2 separate regions of the Homo sapiens genome follow, and region 2 is linked to region 1. The links come from fine-mapping of genetic effects on gene expression. Tissue or cell type: whole blood. Region 1 holds a variant in brackets; the other region holds the start of a gene. All regions are shown on one strand. Distances are between the middles of the regions.

Region 1 (2,762 bases):
GGGTCTACTGCTCGCTGCTCTGCAGAGAACATTAAAAGCATTCACAAAAGAGATATCACAGATTTTGTTGGTTGTAAACCTGAAAGACGAATTTTTCTGTTATATTTTATGAGTATGGGTTTTAAAGCCTTCATAATACCTGGCTACGCCTCTCCAGTACCCATGCATTTAAGGTGATGATTTGTGATGTTAAATTCAGCCTGAAGAAGACCTCCATTGTCTCAGGGTGACTCAACATATGCAACTGACAGAGGTAATTACCTTTTTTTTTCCCCATAGATGGCAGATAGAAGATTTTGCTGTTCCCTTTGTGCTTCTGAGCCCACAGATGGGATCCTCTGTGCGCAACTTGCACGGGATCCCAAGCAGATAAGAGGTGCTGTGGTTGCCAACAGCATCTAAAGACCCCAAGAGTTATTAATAGAATAGATACAATTAAGACGTGGATTTTGAAGGCTCAGTATCTGCAAGGGACCTCTGTCGGAGGCAGGGAGGAGGTGGTATCAACAAAACCATAGGTTATTAGAGCTGGGCAAAGCCTTTGAAACCACTTGTCCTTGCAAACCACAGATTGTTAAAGCTGGACAAAACCTTTGGGATCATTTGCCCTGGTCTGTTAGATTTCTAGATTGGCCACCAAGGCCTGATCATGTTTGAGGCTTTATTCAAGGTTATCCAGAGGCCTCTAACACTTAAAAATAATTCTTTAATTTACAAAAGCAAAGTTTCTTTTGTTAAGTAGGGCGATTAAATGAAACACATGCCTCCATTTGTAGCCTAATAATAACCCAGAAGTTTTCTTCTGCCCTAAATTAGGAAACCTCATTAACGAACAGGGCTTTTAAGAAGCCACAAAGCGTGGTCTGCTTTTCCCCTGCTTAGAAGGACAGCAGCAATTACAGCTCGTGGCTCAGACAGTGGTTTTCTGTGTCTTCCCTGTGTTTGTGAGAGATTGAAGTCATTAATGAGACGCTAATGATCCAGCTCGCAAACTTAACTGGAGTTCACTGTGCCTTTCCTGGAACGGGTGAAGAGGCCTCTGCTTTTTGCTTCCTTACCTGTGATGGTGAATTCAGGCCAACCCTGGAGCAAGGAAAGGGCAGATTTTCAAAAGCTGGGCAGACTAAACCTCAATCATCTTGGCAAAACGTTTTCTCCAAGGAATGTGTGCTCAACAATGGGACCAACCCCAGACAATAAACAATGCATTTGCTATCCTTTGGAAACCTGGTTCTCCCTCCATTGGAAAGTTGGTCTTTTTGTTCCTTCTGTCAGAGAATGTGTAACCTGAAAAGGATCTGCTCAGTCACATTCTGTTCACCTGGCTTGGCCTCAGAGTTGGAACATTCTTCCCTTTGTGATTGTGGACATTTGTCTTGAAACAAAGGGCTGACCTTTCTCTTCATGCATGAGCAATGTCTTTTATTTTTGTTTCTTGATAGATGCTGTGCAACATATATAAAGCCTCTAGTATGTGTTCAATTGTGGCACCTTGGCAGGTGCTCAATTGCCTAAGTTTGAGTTCCCCCAGAAGCAAATCCTGTAGGGATTTGAGGAAATGAGACGGGAGGGCAGGCAGCCAGTAAAGGGGTGTTACTGAGCTTGCTCCCACCGTGGGCAGCTGGAGGTTGAGTTCTGCAGGGATGGCGGAATATGCTAGAGAATTGTCC[C/T]ACCCCAGTTGCAAAGGACAAATACTGTATGATTCCACTTACATTGGGATCTGAAGGTAGTAAAATTCATACAGACAAAGTCAAACAGTGGTTGCCCAGGGCTGGTGGGAGAGAAAAATGGGGAGTTATTGTTTAATAGGTATAGAGTTCAGTTTTACAAGATAAAAAGGGCTGGGTATGGTGGCTCACACCTGTGATCCCAGCACTTTGGGAGGCCAAGGCAGGTAGATCACTTGAGGTCAGAGGTTTGAGACCAGCCTGGCCAACATGATGAAACCCTGTCTCTACTAAAAATACAAAAATTAGCCAGGCATGATGGTACAAACCTGTAATTGCAGCTATTCAGGAGACTGAGGCAGGGGAATCGCTTGAATCCAGGAGGTGGAGGTTGCAATGAGCAGAGATCACGCCACTGTACTCTAGCCTGGGCCACAGAGTGAGACACCATCTCAAAACAAACCAAAAGATAAAAAGAGTTCTGGAGATGGATGGTGGTGATGGTAGCACAACACTGCAAATGTATTTAATACTACTGAGGCGTACCCTTAAGAATAGTTAAGATGGTAAATTTTATGTTTTGGGTTTTTTTTTTCAACTACAATTGAAAAAATACAGTTGAAAGAAAAGAAGACACACTGGTCCTGCCCCTCCAGGGCAGGAGGCTTAGAGGAGAGTGGTGTCTCGCAGTTCACCTCGGGCCCCACTGAACATCTATGACACACGTGTTAAGAGATGCTGTTCTAGAATGTGAGAGCCACAGACCTGGCTGAGGTGGTGGCTGCCTTTCCCTGGTGTCTTGCCTCATCGAAGGGGCTCTGTGTCACCACTGCTCCCTCCTTGTTTGTCCTTCCCTCTGTTTTTGGGGTCTTTTTCCTAACCAATAACAACATATATATTTTACATATAATGATACCTATGGCAATTACACATAGGGACATATCTATTATATTAAGTGTAGTAATAACAACTGTCTTAGGCTGGGCTCCCTCAGAAGCTGACCTTGAGTTAGGGTTTGAGTGCTAATAGATGATTTGGGAGGCAGTCTCGGGGAGCATCGATGGGGCAGGAGGGGGAAGGCGAGAATAGGGAAAG
Region 2 (2,500 bases), 50 kb after region 1:
TGATCCCTGCTTCCTGATATTCATACTGTTGTGTAATTCCTTCTCCTTGAGTGTGGATAAAACCTGTGACTTGCTTCTAACTGATAGAATATGACAAAGGTGTGAGAATGTCACTTCTGTGATGAGGTTTCATAAGACAGTGACTTCTGTCTTGGTAGGTGACTCTTTCTATTGCTATCTTGACTTGCATACTTTGATGAAGCAAGTTGCTATGTTGGAAGGGCCCCATGCCAAGGAACTGAGGGCAACCTCTGGCCAACTGCCCCAAGGAAACTGAGGCTCCAGTCCAACAGCCAGTGCAGGGCTGAATCTGGCCAAAAAATGCTGATTGAGCTTGGAAGCAGATCCTTCCCCAGTTGAGCCTTCAGAGGAGACCCCAGCCCCAGCTGACACCTTGATTGCACCTTTGGGAGAGGCTCTGAAGCAGAGAACCCAGGTAACCTATGGTCAGTTTCCTGACCCACAGACTGTGAGATACTAAATGCATGTTGTTTTAAGCAGCTAGGTTTTAGGGCAATTTGTTATGCTGCAGTAGACAACTAATACACTGTACTATATTTGTCTCTTTTTCCAGCAGGACCAGAAATGGGCTGTTTAAGGTCCCTGGGACCTTGTCATGTCATGTGTATTTAACTGTTTACCCACCACCGAAAAGCTTCCTGCCAGGACCCATCTGCAGTGTAAAAGGGGAACCCTGAAGCCCTGGGAATGGCTCCTAGTACTTCAGGTAGGGGCTCTGTGTCCCCATCAGTTTCCACCTTTGGGCCTCCCACTAGAACTTCCTTAATTGTCTTTCTCCACCTAAGCATCATTTAGCTTACAAACCAGAGGCAGCAAGCCAATTATTCCCCGGAGAAACTTCAGCCAGGCAGGGGGGCATTAACCACACCAACTGGTGTTCCACAACAAAGGTATGAGAGGCAGAGATTCACATCCCAGTCCGGTTCGTAAGCAGAGGCGCATGAAATAAGAAACCCCTTTTGAGAAAGAGGGAAATTAGGGGAGATACTGAAATTATGCGTTGCATAGGACATCAGGCAACCACTTCACTGTCGGCTTCAGTTTTTGATCTGCAAGATGGGAGTCTACTTCTAGGTCCCATAGTTTTTGATTCTTAGTCTGACACAATGTGGGTTGCTGTGAGCTGGCTCTTTGGGTGCCAAGTCAGCTATCAAATGTGGGTAACAGAATACCTGTCTTCAAAGGGGGTTGTAGAATTAAATGAAATAAATAAAACACGTGAAACGTGTAACACAGGGCCAGCCCAAGTGTCATCGTGGCAGTTGCTGCTTCACCACGGGGTCTCAAGTCCCGAGGAATTGGGGTCGCGGGCGAGCGGAGCGCAGCCGGGACCCAGGCCGGGTGGCCTGCCCCGCCCACGTGGGGCCGCGGCCCGTCGAATGACTCCTTGCAACGTGTTGGTGGTGGCGGCGGCGGTGGCGCGGGCTCTTCCGGGCGCCGCAGCTTCCTGCCAAGCACCGCGCAGCCGCCTCCGCCGCAGGATCCCCCGGTGCAGGCCTCCGTGCTGGTGCGGATCCTGGAGCTCAGCCGCGCGCGCCCTGCCCGATCCTGTGCCGACCCACCGCACTATGCGCGCCGTGCCGCTGCCCGCCCCGCTCCTGCCGCTGCTGCTGCTCGCGCTCCTGGCCGCTCCCGCCGCCCGCGCCAGCAGAGCCGAGTCCGTCTCCGCGCCGTGGCCCGAACCCGAGCGCGAGTCGCGGCCACCGCCCGGCCCGGGGCCCGGGAACACCACCCGGTTTGGGTCTGGGGCGGCGGGCGGCAGCGGCAGCTCCAGCTCCAACAGCAGTGGCGACGCCTTGGTGACCCGCATTTCCATCCTCCTCCGCGACCTACCCACCCTCAAGGCAGCCGTGATCGTGGCGTTCGCCTTTACCACCCTCCTCATCGCCTGCCTGCTGCTGCGCGTCTTCAGGTGGGCCCTCCCGCCCTCTTCCTTCCCCCGCCGGCCGACAGGGCGGCATCGCCAACCTGCTGTCGCCGCGCGCCCGCCCCACCTGCACGCACAGGTGCCCTGGTGCGCCCCAGCCAGCCGTGTGCCTCCTGCCCTGCCCGGGAGAGTGGGTGGGGGGCCGGGGTGTGCTCGTCTGGATTTTCCTGGTACATGTTTTAGGAATTTTCTTTCCTCTCTTTAACTATATATATAAAATAAATATGTGGTTCCCATTTGTTGGCTTTCTGCTAATGCTGAACACTAACAATAGCGCTCTGAATTCTGACAGCGTTTCCCATAATTTATTTTTATAATCATTTCACAGATGAGGAAAACATTTTCAGAGAGGCAAAATGGCTCATCTAAGGTAAACTCAGTGGTGGAGGTAGGACTTGAACCCAGGCCTGTCTAACTTTAATCTCGCTACTCCCTCTCCCTTCTACCATCTGCAGCTCCCTCACGCCCCGCCTACTTTTTCTTCTTCTTCTTCTTCTTCTTTTTTTTTTTTTTGCTACTGAAAGAAGCAGTTTCTAGTGTGGGGGGTAGTAG

Evidence for each region. PIP is the estimated chance that this variant, and not a neighbour inherited with it, causes the effect.
Region 2: FAM174B starts here. The variant in region 1 is fine-mapped to the expression of FAM174B in whole blood (TOPMed, PIP above 0.99).

Annotation. Positions count from the first base shown.
Region 1 is chr15:92,704,510-92,707,271 of GRCh38, reverse strand. No RefSeq gene overlaps it. Among named protein-coding and RNA genes, the nearest start is that of FAM174B, 50 kb to the right of the region's middle. The variant C/T (reference allele first, on the strand shown) is at 1,671.
Region 2 is chr15:92,654,749-92,657,248 of GRCh38, reverse strand. FAM174B (family with sequence similarity 174 member B) reads left to right here and starts at 1,474. Exons shown (of 3, transcript NM_207446.3): 1 at 1,474-1,933. The coding sequence starts at 1,590. RefSeq lists silencers at 1,298-1,347, 1,628-1,827, 1,928-1,977, 2,028-2,097.